Linked DNA regions of Homo sapiens: region 1 is linked to region 2. A link means that fine-mapping ties the variant in region 2 to the expression of a gene that starts in the linked region. Tissue or cell type: whole blood. Region 2 holds a variant in brackets; the other region holds the start of a gene. All regions are shown on one strand. Distances are from middle to middle.

What was found. PIP is the estimated chance that this variant, and not a neighbour inherited with it, causes the effect.
Region 1: LRRC75A starts here. The variant in region 2 is fine-mapped to the expression of LRRC75A in whole blood (TOPMed, PIP 0.96).

Annotation. Positions count from the first base shown.
Region 1 is chr17:16,487,958-16,495,613 of GRCh38, forward strand. LRRC75A (leucine rich repeat containing 75A) reads right to left here and starts at 4,236. Exons shown (of 4, transcript NM_001113567.3): 1 at 3,788-4,236. The coding sequence starts at 4,033. The region is part of intron 2 of LOC124903936 (a long non-coding RNA gene); the gene reads left to right. RefSeq lists silencers at 3,839-3,898, 4,009-4,058, 4,149-4,488.
Region 2 is chr17:16,513,000-16,520,655 of GRCh38, forward strand. No RefSeq gene overlaps it. Among named protein-coding and RNA genes, the nearest start is that of LRRC75A, 25 kb to the left of the region's middle. RefSeq lists an enhancer at 3,285-4,484. The variant T/C (reference allele first, on the strand shown) is at 3,443.

The DNA of each region.
Region 1 (7,656 bases), 25 kb before region 2:
CTGGTGAACACGAAGACAGGGGCTACCTCAGCTGGGTGTATCCCAGGGAAACAGACGCCTTTTTCTGCTGCTCCATGACGCAGGCCGACAGCTCAGTCTAAAATTTTGAGGACTCAGGGAAACTGCTGGGGTGAAGAGATGACAGCTCACCCTCAAGGTGGCCTGGCACTTGCCCTCTCTCAATGGCGGAAGGTTATTTCTTCTCCAGGGCTCCTTAAAGACAGCAGGCCTGAGCCCAAGGGGAAGGACATCTGGGGAAGGGGAAAGCCTGGAAGGATGGCGGCCAGGAAAGGGCAGAGGAATGGCCTCTCCCATCCAAAGCTGGCTTGTTTTATCTCCACGAGCATTCGCTCCAGATGCTTCTAAATGTGCAGTGAGTTTTTGATCCAGACTGAACCCTGGCCAGGTAGATGGAATCCAAAAAATTCTTGGGCCATGCCTGAGAAAGGATGCCACAACCCTGCCCCTACTGGGGCCAGACCCAAAGTGAGTAAGGCAGATTCTCCTGTTTCACAGTCACCAAGAGAATGTGTCTTGAATGGCAGCACCAACACCATTTCATTCACTTTGTAGCATTTGCTGTGCTCAGTACCCCAGATCCCTCTTTGGGAAACAAAGAAACACAACTCAGAGAGGTTATCTGCTGGGCCCAAGGTCACAGCTGACTGAGGACCGGAAGGCGAGCTGCCTACTTGATCCTTGGCCCTGGACTCTTCTCAGATTACACTTATCTTAAAGGGAAGGGGATTACTTTCTGTTCCTTCAAGGCAGCTGCCTGGCATCCTGCCTGCACCCCTGGCCACAGCTCAGGGTCATTTGTGCTGAATGAGGCCTCCTGATACCTCTCCAGCAAGTGACAAGCTGGAGAGACGCCCTCCAAATCTTAGATGCTGAAGAGGGGCATTCAGAAGAAGTGGCACCAGCAGCCACAATCCTTCAGCCCACCGTGAACTGCCACACATGCACCCGGGTCAGGTCCCTGTTTCCAGATCCCCAGCCTGGAGCAAGTCACAGCAGGGAGAAGGGTGGTATTGGACTGGAGCAGAGATTCTGAGCTTGGAGTCTGTAGCTGGGTTTCAGGGGCTTTGTGAACCCTCCGAAATTGCCTGTGAGATTGCGTGAGTCAGTGCATTTGCCTGGGAAGATTGTGTGTAGCTTTTTCAGAGCCTCAAAAAGATCAAGGACTCAAAGAGGCTAAGAAGCACAGGAACAAAGGCTCCCGAGTCCCCACCAGCCATATGGCTCTGGGCATACACAAATCCAGCAGCCAAACCCAAGTTATCAAATGCAGGAGAACATGCTGTGTGAATGGAGGTGAGGGCTACTGTCCTCGCTGCTGCCCCTCCCTGGTTCTGTGCCTGCTCATTGACTCCCACCCCAGAGGCCTGCATGACATTCCTGCAGAACAGGGTGCCCCACGCTTTGCAGACCCCTGTCTTTACTGGCTGTCTTGCTGAGGAAGAGGTTCTTGCTGGTCTGACCCCTGTGAGGCTTGTGTGTTCTCAAGGCTCTCACTAGCTGCTCATTCCCTTTCTGAACATCACCACCACCAGACTAGAGAAGGAAACTGGAATGGAAAGGAAAATGCAATTTTGGAGAAAGAGCCACTTCAGTGCACAGCACAAATCCAGCTGGACATTCCTCCAAATGGCCTCAGGGTCCTAGAAAGCCACCTCTCTGTCATAGGCAAGTGAACACTCCTGTGCTCCACTCCCACACTGCTCAAGGCCCATGACCACTTTCGGGAGGGGTCCTGCTCCATCCGTTCCAGGCCACACAGGGCAGCTCCAGGCCCACGGCCCTTGCATCCCCAGCCAGGGGTTAAGGGAGCCCAACAGGAGCCCAGAAGCCCAGAGCCTGAGGACCTGCTGCTTTCACAGAAAAGGGGGAAGTCTGATAAGCCCCCTCCCACCCCCCCATCAGCCCTCCCAGTCCTGCAGCTGAGGCGGGTACCAGGACACCAATAAGACCCATGTGCAGATGTCTGAGGAAATGCTTCTTGTTTCAAGGATCCCACAGTGGGGCTGCAGGGGCTTATCTACTCTCCCTCAAGGCAGGGAGAAGCTCAGTGTCCCCAGGATGTGGAATCACACTCAGCCCTACAGGGACTGGGGAGCCCAAAGTATCTGCCCACTTTGGGTCCAGTCTCCTCCCGTGGGCCTCCAAGCGGCCCTCCATCATGCAAGCTTCGCTCTGGTCTTGCACCCTCCAAGAAGTGCTTGCCAGCTCCCTCTGTTCTTCTGTATCCCCCAAAGCACCCATTGCAGGGTGGGGGAAACAGCATGTGATCAGGAAAACCTTACTGTATGGTGTGTAAATAGGATACCATGGTCTGGAAAACCCAATATTCTGTTTAAAAGTGAAAGAGTTACTATAAAGGCCATATGTCAGCTTCCAATTTTCAAAAGACAAAGAAATACACACTGCTAAAGTTCAGTGGTGCATAATGTCATCTTTCTTTGATGACTGAACTCAGAGAAGGCACATGGGGATCCAGCAGCGTCTCGGGCATCATTCTGGAAGTTGTTGGGGAAAACAGAGGCAGAAGCAGAAGTCCCACATCTTCCCAAGTCCCCTCGTCTCTGCTTGCCTCTCCCTGTGCAGTGCACAGCTTGGGGACACATACTTTAGGGTAAGAGCGCACCAGATACAAAGGTGGGGAAGAGTGCTGCAGAACCCAAGAGGGATGTGGGTCTGATTAGATTTTGGAAGCTCCTCCCAAGAAGGTGCTCCTACAGCCTCTTTCAGCAGCGACTGGAAAACCCCAGAAAGGTCACCTGAGATTTTCCCTCTGCCATCCACGGTAGACTCCACCTCTAATGGGGTCAGTCTAGCAAGAATATGGGGCCTGGATTGTCTACCCACCAAAGCCAGGCCAAGACAACCTGCTTGGTGATGCAGGAGAGCAGCTTTGCACTCCCCTGCCTGTCTTATACTCAACAAAATCCATGGCATGGGCCATGCTCCTCTCCCCACCAAAGAAACTGACAAAGGAAAACAAGCCACAGAGAGGTGAGTGATAGCATTAGCCTCAGGGCAGCCCCAAAGCAGAGGGAACTGGCCAATTCCGCAACATCTGTCCCTAGCCAGTGGGACAGGCACAGGCTAAGGACAGAGTCCTGGCAGTCTCCTGAAGTTGCTGCTGGCCAGGTGGTCACACAGGGCACCAAATCCAGCTCCCCTGTCTCTACCGCTTTCCGCAGGGGCTCATGGTTGAGGATCTGCTGAAGTTAGTCAGGGGAGAGGAAACAGTCTCCTCCTTGAACTACAATCCAGGATGCCTCCCAGGCGAGTGAAGGACCTAGGGACTGGAATCTCATTGGCCCCAGGGCTGTGCCCCTGGACTCGCTCTCGGGAAGCCAAGCCAGGTCCAACTGATAACCGCATTCCTTGAGGACCCTCGGCCGGGAGTGACTGCCAGTGGGCAGACAGGAAGAAAAGAGCCCTGGCCCAGATCAGGCAGGCATCCCTGCTTCCCCGCCCACCGACTGTCCCCGGAGACCAGCCTCCTTCTCTGCCTGCGGAGGAGAGCAGTGGGGACATTATGCCAACAGGTCCCCTTCGGCGGGCCTCACCCGGCCAGCCTTCCTCCGCCCTGCCCTGAGGCCCCACATTCAGCGGAAGCGCCGAGGCACCTGCTGCCAGACAGGGCTCCATCCCCGCGGAAGGGGCCCCTGGGCGGTGCCCCTCGGTGCCCCCGGCTTCCTCGGTTAGGGATGGGGCGCCCCCCCCGGCCCAGCACGCCCCCTGGCCCGGCGCGCCCCCCGCGCCCCCTCCCCGCGCTCACCTGGCGCAGGTGCTGCAGCAGCGTCCCCGCCTCCTCCCGCCGGCCCTGGCGCACCATCCGCAGCAGCTCCTGGACCATGCCGACTCGCCGGTGGTAGGGGGGCATCCCCGCGCCCGCGCGCCCCGCCTTGTCCCCGGCGCGCAGCAGCAGCGACGCCCAGAAGTCCGGCCGTTCGCGTCGGGGGCCCGGCGCGGCGCCGGGGCTGGCTCTCTCCGCCAGGCTGCCCTTGGTCTGCCGGGTGCCCATGCCGCCGCCGCCCGCCGGGACTCTCCGCTCTGGGCCGCGAGGCCGCGTCCCCGCCAACCGCCCGCCCCTCGGCCGCCCGTGCGCGCTCGCCTCCCGGGCTGCAACTTTGGGGGAACTGTTGCGCGCGGGCGTCGCGGGGGCGGGCGGGCGGGCGGCTGTCGGCGCTCCCCGCGCTCCTCCCTCTTGGCTACCCGGGCGCGCTCCCCGGGCGCTCGCCGCCGGCCCGCCCGCCGGCCCCGCCCCGGCCCGGCTCGGCCCGCCCCGCCCCCCGCCTCCGCGCCGGAGCTCCGCGGCGTCGCGCGCCTCCCTCTTCTCGGGCTCCCGCTCCTTCCCGCCCCGCGGCTCCGGGCTGGGGACCACCACCAGGCGCCCCCTGCCTGCGTCCTCTCGGCAGTCGCGCCTCCTGCGGGCGGCAGTGCTGCGCTTCCCGGGGCCGTGGCGCGGGGGCGAGGGGAACAGGCAGGCCCCATGGGCCGTCGCTCTCGGTCCCCACCGGGCTCCCCGACGCTTCCACCACCGCGCGCCCGGTGCGTCGGGCGAGATGGGGAAAGTTTGGAGCATGGGGGTGTGTGTGTTGGGGGGCTCTCTTAGGCCCAGAGTCGGGTTTCTCAAGGTGGGTTCCGCTGAGCCTCAGCGCCCAAATCGTCGGAGGCGCTGGTTAAAAACGCAGGCTCTAAGGCCTCCACCGAGACCTACTGAATGATAATCTCCTCGGTGGGGCCTGGGATCCGCCTTTTTAGCCAGCATGTTGGGTGATTCCCATGCACGCTCCTTTGAGACCTGGCCTGCTTGCAGGGCGCTGTAGTGGTGTGGTTGGTGCGTAAACCTGGAAACTGTGCGAGCTTATGGGTTGTGTGCGTGCCCTTCTATGGAGAGGGCCTGTTGCTTCCATCATGCTCTCAAAGCATCTGGACCGGAGAGGTGTGAACTCCTGTGTTCTCTTGTTCTCACTCTCACAGCCCTGGAGAAGGGTCCCTGGGGTAGTCCTGGTACAACAAAGCAAACGCACGTCTGCGAGTAGGCCCAGCGGTACACCCTGCTGGCCCACCTTCCTCCCCGTGCCTCTGCCAGGCCCAGTCTGTAAGGGACCAGAGCCCTGGGATCTCATGGTGTTGCCAGGGCTTGCCAGAGTGAAGGCGAAGGCAGGTGGGGGAGCTTCTCTGTTGCAGACCACAGGCCGCCCTGGTCCCAGCGCAGGGCAGAAGCAATTGTGCAAGCTCGCCTCTGACCCCAGCTCTGGGTGTTGCTTGAGGGTGTAAGGGCACGTGGGCTGTAGGGGCAGGAGGCTGGATCCCAAATCACAGGGAGCTGAGCCCCACTACTTAGTGAGCACTGAGTATCAGGCGAGTCTTCAGCTTCTTGAGTCCTGATTCTTCCTGTCAGGCTAGGATAATAACACTGCCAAGAATTGGGAGAGTAAACTCGGTGGACACTGCTAAAGGAAAAAATTATTTAATGACATGAGTTAAAGCATCGTAAGGAAGACTTTATTCAGGACCATTACCATAGGTGTAGGGACCTCTGCTATGAGATTTTGCAGTTGCAGGGAGAGAGAGATTGAGCTCAACTCCAATTACAGCATGGGCAAGTGGGAATTCGTTGCTAAGGAGCAGGGTGGGGGTCAGCGGATAGAAACTTAATAAGGGAAACATCAGGGCTGAGGGGGATTCTGGCTAAACAGGTTGTATGGAGCACCCTTGACATAAGTAACTCCATCTTAGAAAAAGGGTCCATTTTACATTTGAAAAAGCCTCATGCCAACAGGAACCAGATGTTCGCCTAATCAATAAAGACTACACCCCACCAGATAAAGACATAAACAGGCACACTCTTTGCTATCAGTCCTCACCAGAGGATTCTGTAGCCATAAAAAGAGCAGGACTTCAGCAACTGGAGATGACCGTCTGGATAGACCCCATCTTGCCCACACTCTGCCCACATCAAAGACTCTTCCTTGCAAGACACTGAGGACTGTTTGGATCAGGCCAGGAGACTCCCCTTGTCCAAGTCACTCTCCTTGGACTATATTGTTAACCGCTCCTTCCCTATCCCCTTTTCTCTTGATGTTAAATGTACTTTGATGTGGAATGTGTAATCTATAACATTTATATATTGATTAAGTATACTACCATGTATGGTTGGCAGTATTGACTGACTTGTGGAGTGACTTGAGCCTGTATGCCCACAGCTCTTATTACCAAGTGAATGGGGAAAACTAAGGAGAATTTGCCTCCTTGAGAACCCCATGTGGCTTGTGGCTTTTATGACTGAAATAGCATCAATAAAAGCCTGACGTTGTAGAAAGACACACATGTGCATGAACCTGATTATTTCTGACTTTGTGGCACTCACAACACCAACCTAACAGAATTCTTGCTTTAGACAGGCCAGGTGACCAGAGATCACCTGGGGGAGGGTGGGGGATGATAAACCTAATCAGATATTGAAGATGATCAGATATACAAGATGGAGGGTTCTTGCTAAACTGTCTTAACAGGGTCTTTGCTAAAACTGGATTTTACATGGAAGTGCAAAGAGGGTCTAGGAGAAGGTTTGGGAGCCTGACTAAAGTTTGGCCAAGCAAAGAATCTTTGTCAATATATAAACTTCAAGCAGAGTAGAGATGTTCTGCAAATGAGTTCCTCTTCCTGCTCTGTGATCACAGGGTTTTCCATAGGTGTCTTCTCCGTTATCCCTGAGTACCTTGAGTATGAGTCCTGGCATCTCTCCTGCAGGCATTCTCTTCCCTTTGGCCACCCCACTCCCAAATGTCCATCTCTGCCAGCAGAGAACACTCAGTCTTCCTACAAGCTGGCTTTGCAGGGCTTGGACAGCACTTTCCAAACTTACCTGAACCCTTTGCATAGGAGCACACACCTGCTGGCATCTCCAGAGAACCCAGCTTGAAAAATACTTATGTGTCTCTCATCTCTGGTCTGCAGGACCACCAGACAAAGTGGCCACCAAGGACACCTATTGACCAGGCCCCTCCCTACAGACAGTGAGCTCTACCCACCTGGAGACAGACCACACAACCTAGATAGCCTGTTGGCCTGCTTGAGGGTGTGTGGTTGGGGCAAATGCCATTTCAATGGGAGAGGGGCCAGACCAGCCCCTCACTTGGGATCTGAATGTTAGCCCTCTCCTCTTTTTCAGAGACCTGATTCTATCCTCCTCCCCTTGCTCTTGATTTTTTTACCCTGACTTTTCCTGTTTTCTGGCTTGTTCTCCTCAAGATATGCTCTACTCACCTCTCTTCCATCTATTGAAAAATTTCATTTGCATCTGCCTGCTTCAGTCACCAGTGCCCCAACTTTATCCTTTCTTTTCAGCTAAGATTTTTAGTTTCCCTCCCTCCCTCCCTCCCTTCCCTCCCTCCTTCCTTCCTTCCTCCCTTCTTTCCTTTTCTCTCTCTGTCTTCCTCCCTCCCTTCTTTTTTTTTGAGACAGGGTCTCACCCTGTAGCCCAGGCTGAAGTGCAGTGGCACCATCACGGTTCACTGCAAACTTGATCTCCTGGGCTCAAGCTAGCTTCCCACTTCAGCCTCCCAAGTAGCCAGGATCACAGGTGCACGCCACCATGCCTAGCTAATTTTTGTAATTTTTTTTTGTAGAGACGGTTTT
Region 2 (7,656 bases):
CACTATGTTGGCCAGGCTGGTCTTGAACTCCTGACCTCAGGTGATCCACCCGCCTCAGCCTCCCAAAGTGTTGGGATTACAGGCGTGAGCCACCGTGCCTGGCCCATCCTAGTTTCTTTCTTTCTTTTTTTTTTTTTTGAGATGGAGTTTCACTCTTGTTGCCCAGGCTGGAGTGCAATGGCATGATCTTGGCTCATAGCAACCTCCGCCTCCCGGGTTCAAGCCATTCTCCTGCCTCAGCTTCCCAAGTAGCTGGGATTATAGGCATGCGCCACCACGCCTGGCTAATTTTGTATTTTTAGTAGAGAAGGGGTTTCTCCATGTTGGTCAGGCTGGTCTCAAACTCTGGACCTCAGGTGATCCACACACCTCGGCCTCCCAAAGTGCTGGGATTACAGGCGTGAGCCACTGCGCCCGGCCATTTATTTCATTCATCATACTTATCATACTCTGTGATTCCTTGCTTGATTTGTTTACTTGTTTACTGTCCACCTTTCCTACCAGAATTAAGCTCCCTGAGGGCCAGGTTCCATCTGTCTTGGTTCTTGCAGTGCCTCCGTACCTGGCACAGTGGTTGGCATGCCCCTGCTTGTGATGTGTGTAACAGAATATGCCTTTTGCCAATGCTCAGGGTGTTGCTGGGGTTTTGCTGAGGTTTTCCACTTTTCTCTGCACATGGTGACTTAAAGGTCTGCAGGCACTTCTTTGAATCTACTCTTATTTCCGCCATGCCTCGCAGAAGTTCCTTGAGGTCTCTGAGGCCTGAGCGGCCGTTTTCTTCTATGTCTAGTGTAATCACCCTCTACTTTCATACTCTTTTAGTCATTTCAGTGACAACTTGGAAGATGGGGATTCCCGGTACGAGATTGGAAAGGCATAAAATGATACGGCAGTGATCGCTCTTTGGAGATGGTGCTCATAGTCTCACCTTCCAGGGGTTTTTCCTTCATTCTACAAATATTTATTTATTGGCAGGGGCTCGGTTCACTCTCTTGAGCCACTCTCTTGGGCAAGTTCCAAGTCCTCATGTTGACCTGTCTGCCGCATTTGCCATTGCGACTGCTCTTTCCTGTCTGGGGCTTTCTCCACCCTCTTGTTTCTCAATGCAGTAGGGGTCAAGACCCTGCTCCTTCCTAGTTTGCCTTCTTCCTCTTTGACATCACCTCTCCATCTTCCTCAGAGAATCCCCCCTTCCTTCAGTATACCACATGGCACACTGGTCCACTGATTTGCCCTTGTCCAGCTTCTCTTCCCAGGCAGTCTCCTCCGAGGCCTTTGGTTCAGTTCCCTTCTGCAGGAGCTGGTTCTCAATTGCGCGTGTGGAGTCAGAGCACAATCACATCTCAAACTCAACACGTGCAGGGTGGAGGTCGCTTCCTCCCCACACCCTTGCTCCTCTCGCTTCTCTTTCCCTCAGCATTTCCCTGCTCCTCATCCAACTTGCAGCCAACTCTTGTGGATTCTACATTCCCAGCATCTCTCTGGGACCCTACCTCTCCATCCTGGCTACCCTTGCCTTAGTCCCAGCCAGAATCATGTTTTTGTTTTGTTTTGTTTTGTTTTCCCAAGACAAAGTCTTTTTCTGTCACCCAGGCTGGAGTGCAGTGGCTCGATCTTGGCTCGCTGCAACTTCCGCCTCTTGGGTTCAAGTGGTTCTCCTGCCCCAGCCTCCCGAGTAGCTGGGATTACAGGCGCGTGCCACCACGCCTGGCTAATTTTTGTATTTTTAGTAGAGACAGGGTTTCACCATGTTGGCCAGGCTGGTCTCGAACTCCTGACCTCGTGATCCACCCACCTCAGCCTCCCAAAGTGTTGGGATTACAGGCGTGAGCCACGGTGTCTGACCCATGTTTTATGTCTGTTAGTGTGACCCCTATCTTCTTGCCTCCAGTTCTTCTCTCCTTTTAGCTCCTCCATGCCTCCTTTAAATGATCTTCCTATAATACAGCATTGTACTATATCTGCAATACAGCATTGTATCCGACTTCCTCCTTTCATTTATTTATTTATTTTTTTTTGAGATGGAGTCCTGCTTTTGTTGCCCAGGCTGGAGTGCAATGGCACAATCTTGGCTGACTGCAACCTCTGCCTCCCGGGTTCAAGTGATTCTCCTCCCTCAGCCTCCCGAATGGCTGGAATTACAGGTGCCTGCCACCACGCCGGGCTAATTTTTGTATTTTTAGTAGAGACAGGGTTTCGCCATGTTGACCAGGCTGGTCTTGAACTCCTGACCTCGTGATCTGCCTGCCTTGGCCTCCCAAAGTGCTAGGATTACAGGCGCAAGCCACCGCGCCCAGCCTGACTTCATCCTCAATACCTCAATACCTTGAATGCTGAATTAAGTCCCAAATCCTTGTCACCAGAGGCCCTTCATGGCCGGGCCCCTGCCCATCTCTCCAGCCTCCCCTCCATCCCTTGCACCCTACACTCCAAGTCTGCAGAACTGTTTGGAGGTGCCCAGAGTGTACTACCCTACCCTACCACACTGTGCTGCTTCCTTTTCACAAACACCTCTGTATTCGTTTGCTAGAGCTGTCATAACAAAATACCACAGCCCGGGTGGTTTAAACAACAGAAAGTTGTTTCTTCCCAATTCCAGAGGCTAGAAGTTCAAGATCAAGGTGTTGGCAGGGTTGGTTCCTTCAGAGGCCTCTCTCCTTGCTTGTGGATGGCATCTTCTCCCTGCCTCTTCGCGTGGTCATCCCTTTGTGGGTGTCTCTGTGGGTGTCTGTGCCCTAATCGCCTCATAAGGACACCAATCCTACTGGACTGGGGTCCACCCTAATGACCTCATTTTGACTTAATTACTTCTTTAGAGACCTATCTCCAAATAAGGTCCTATTCTGAGGTTGTGGGTATTAGACTTCATGAATAATTTTGGGGGGACCATAATTCAGCCCATAACGCTTCTCCCTCTGGCTAAAAATGAATGTCATTCTCACATGCAAAATACATTCACCCCATCCCAACAGTTTCCAAATCTTAACTCTTTGCAGCACCAACTTTTAAGTTCAAAATCTCATCTAAATCTCATCTAAACCCAGTATGGGTGAGGCTCCCAGTATACTTCTTCCTGAGGCAAAGTTTCTCTCCAGCTGTGAAACTGAAACCGGACAACAAGCTATGTACCTCCAAGACCTAGGGGTGGGGCCAGCATAGAAAGAAATTGGAAAGGAGAAAGGGGTCACGTGTTAGGGTACTTCCATGTATGCATTTTTGAGGTTAACTCAATGGAGAGTAGCCTCCCTTAGTGAACCTGGAAGATGCCACACGCCATTTAACGTCCACTTATCAGGGTGCCCATTTGGAAGCCTCTTCCTCCTGTGCTTCTCCGTACGCCACCCAGTATATCTCTCCATCTCAGTGCCATAACACTCACCACATCCATCTGATGGCTGACTCTCTTCCCTGCCAGACTACACACCTCACGACTTCCAGTACA[T/C]GCTCTATGAGTGACTATTACGCACATAAACCCCATGAGAGGGGCTTTGTTGTTTTGTACATGCTGTGTCCTCAGAGTCTAAAACAAGTCTGGTAGATGGCAGGTAATCAACAAATATTTGTTGAATCCGTGAGTGAATACAAATAAACACACACACCAAACGTGTATCATGTGCACATTCTGGATTCTGATTTTCCAGGAGTCTGTGAATCTATGCAGTTTCTTCAAGGAGAGTCCAAGGGGACATCAACACACTCCTCCTTCCCCTCAGTGGCCGGATACCAGCTGAGCAACCGTCAGATGTCTCCGGGTCTCCCGATGACTCACTGAATGCTTTCTTTGGGAGGAGTGGGAGGAGAGGATGGCTGACAAAAATAACTGCGGGCACTTGAAGCGGCATCAAGCCTCTGTCGGCGGGGGAACAACGGGGGCGCATCTGAAGGTTTCTCCCAGGCGGGGCGGGCAGCTCTCTATTCTTCAGCACCGGAGGTTCTCCTATGTGTTTAGAGAATTAGATAAACGTAGAGTGAATGGAATAAAACCGGCATTGCTCCCAAGCAGTCAGCTGCTCTTGCCATATGTGAAATTCTGTATCAGCTGTGAAGGAAACACACAGGAAGGGAGCTTAGTGAACACCGTTAAGGTGATCATTCTGTGTGTCTGTCTTTTTTTGTTCTTTAAAAAGGGCTTTATGCTTTGTATTTTATCTCATCTGATGATCACATCAATCAGGTCAGAAGGGCACTTTCACGGAAGAAAAAGGCTCAGAGAGAATCACTGACTTGCTGGAGAGGATCATTAGAGCATGGTTCTCAACATGTGGTCCAAGGACCAGCAGTGTCACCACCACCTGTGAACCTGGTAGACACGCAAACTCTGGGCCCTTTCCAGATCAGAAACTCTGGGGTGGGGCCCGGGAGCCCATTGTACAAGACCTCCAGGTGATTCAAATGCATAGCTGAGTTTGAGAACCCTTGGCTTAGAGTCACACAGGTAACAAGTTACAGATCCTGGGTGAGAACCCAAGGATGTCCTTGGATACTATACTTCAGTGAGTGACTTGCATGTTAGTAGCTGACAATATCTCTCAGGACAATCCCTTGCAATATTAATTTACATTTTGCTTTTGCTTCTACTTCAGTTTATGAAGCCCGGCACAGTCCAGTTCCGGCTACAGCTCCAGCTTCCCTCCCACTCACTGTGCTGGGGCCACACTGGCCTTCTCTCTGTTCTTTAGACACAGCATGCCCTTTTCTGCTCCAGGACCTTTGCACATACTGTTTCCTCTGCCCAGAATGCCATCCCTGCTAGCTTGATTCTTCTCACTTTAAGTCTCGAGGCAGTCATCCTCTTTTCAGAGAGAACTTTAGGACATGCCCATGATGCTCACAGATCGTTCTGTTTAGTCGCATCATAGCACTCGACACCTCCCGAAGTTAACTTGTTTGTTTATTTTATTTTATTTTTGGAGACAGAGTTTCACTCTGTTGCCCAGGCTGGAGTGCAGTGGCACGATCTCGGCTCACTGCAACCTCTGCCCAAGTAGCTGAGACTACAGGCACACGCCACTACACCTGGCTAATTTTATTTTATTTTATTTTTGTATTTTAGTAGAGACGGGGTTTCACCGTGTTGCCCAGGCTGGTCTCAAACTCCTGAGCTCAGGCAATCCACTCGCCTCCCAAAGTGCTAGGATTACAGGCATGAGCCACTGCGCCCGGCCACCTTGTTTGTTTATTAGAAAGTAAATTCCCTGAGAGCAGGGTCCTTCTGGTCCTATCCAATATTGTGTTTCCCAAGTTCACCACAGTGCTTGGCATATAGTAGACACTCAACAAACACTTACTGAAAAAATAAACCATGAACTAGAGGCAACTTGAAAGAGGGAAAAAGCACTTTCCTCCATTCTTGAATCCTGTAAGAATGGCCAGTCTAGGCTGGCTCTCCTTTGGGGAAGGGGGCAGGAAGAAAAATTAACAGTTTCTTGGTTATCAGGGATGCCTAATGGAAGCTGCAGTTGCCACAGATGGCAGGGGAGGGAAGTTAGGCTTAGATGGGAAGAGTGTGGCTGCCTTAAGACTTGCAAGGGGACAGCTCTCTCTCGGTTTTGTTTTTTTTGGAGACGGAGTCTTGCTCTGTCACCCAGGCTGGAGTACAATGGCGCGATCTCGGCTCACCACAACCTCCACCTCCCAGGTTCAAGCGATTCTCCTGCCTCAGCCTCCTGAGTAGCTGGTATTACAGGCATGCACTACCACACCCGGATAATTTTGTATTTTTAGTAGAGACGGGGTTTCTCCATGTTGGTCAGGCTGGTCTCGACCTCCTGACCTCAGATGATCGGCCCGCCTCGGCCTCCCAAAGTGCTAGGATTACAGGCATGAGCCACCGCGCCTGGCCTCGGTCTTTTTTTTATTGTGGTGAAAAACATGTAAGATGAAATCTACCCTCTTAACAAATTTGTAAGTGTAGAGTACAGGCTTGTTAACTTTAGAACTTTCTCATCTTGTGTGACCGAAACTCCACATGCATTGAGCATCAGCTCCCCATCTCTCCTCCCCAAGCCCTGGTAACAAGCTTTCAGCTTTCAGCTTCTATGAGGTTTTTTTTTTTTTTTTGCTTTAGATTCCATATAAATGGAATCATGCAGTATTTGTCCTTGTGTGACTGGCTTATTTGACAACAAATGTCTTCAAGGTCCATTCATGCTATAGTATGTGTCAGAATTTTTTTCCTTTTTAAGGCTGAATGATATTCCTTTGTATGCATGAACCACACTTTCTTTGCCCATTCATCTATTAATGCACTCTTGGGTTGCTTCTGCCTTTTGTCTACTGTGAATGATCTTATTATGAATGTGGATATACAAATGTTTCATTGAGACTTTGCTTTCTATTCTTTTGGGTATATACTCAGAAGTGGGAATGCTAGATCATTTGATAATTCTATTTTTAATTTTTTGAAGAGTCTCTGTTTATCTATTTATGAGACAAGATCTTGCTCTGTTGCCCAATGGCTTGATCATAGCTCAATGTAGCCTTAAATTCCCAGGCTCAAGCCTCCTCCTACCTCAGATCCCCAGGTAGCTGGGACTACAGGTGTGTGCCATCACGTCTGACTAATTTTTTATTTTTTGTAAAGATAGGGTCTCACTGTGTTGTCCAAGCTGGTCCTGAACTTCTGGGCTCAAGCAATCCTCCCGCCTTAGCCTCCCAAAGTGCTGGGATTATTGGCTGAGCCACTGTGCCCAGCCCATACTGTTTTTATAGTGGCTGGGCCATATCGCAGTCTTACCAATGGTGCACAAGGGCTTCGATTTCTCCACATCCTCATCAACCCTCGTTTTATGATTTTTGTTTTGTTTTTCAATAATGGCTATCCTAACAGGTATGAGGTGATTTCTCATTGTGGTCTTGATTTGCATTTCCCTGGTGATTAGTGATGTTGAGTACATTTTCATGTGCTTGTTGGCCACTTGTATATCTTCTTCGGAGAAATGTCTGTTAAAGGTCTTTCCTCATTTTTTTTTTTTTTTTTTTTTTTTTGAGAGGAAGTTTGACTCTTGTTGCCCAGGCTGGAGTGCAGTGGCGCGATCTCGGCTCACTGCAAGCTCCGCCTCCCGGGTTCAAGCTATTCCTCTGCCTCAGTCTCCTGAGTACCTGGGACTATAGGCACACACCACCACACTGGGCTTATTTTTTTTGTATTTCAGAGGAGACTGTGTTTCACCCTGCTGGCCAGGATGGTCTTGATCGCCTGACTTCGTGATCTGCCCGCCTCAGCCTCCCAAAGTGCTGGGATTACAGGCGTGAGCCACTGCGCCCGGCCAGGTCTTTCCTCATTTTTAGGTTGGGTTGTTTGTTTTTGTGGCTATCTATTAAATTTTCGATCCAACTTTTGATTCTGCCATTTACAGAGCACTGTATGTCAGGTATTGTGGGAAGCCCTTAACACACACAATCTCATTTTATCCTTACAACAGCCTTGAAACATAGATACAATAAGAATTCACATGTTACAGATGAGGCATCAAAGCACAGACAGGTTAAACTACATGCCCAAGGTCACATAGCTAGTAAGTGTCCGAGAGGGTCATCAGACCAGACCAATCTGATCCTAGTCCGGATCATAATCTAGAAGCCCTCACTGCATCTCACCACTGTGCAGGTTGATAGGGAGGCTGGGGCAGGGTCCTGTAGCAAATCACAAGGGTG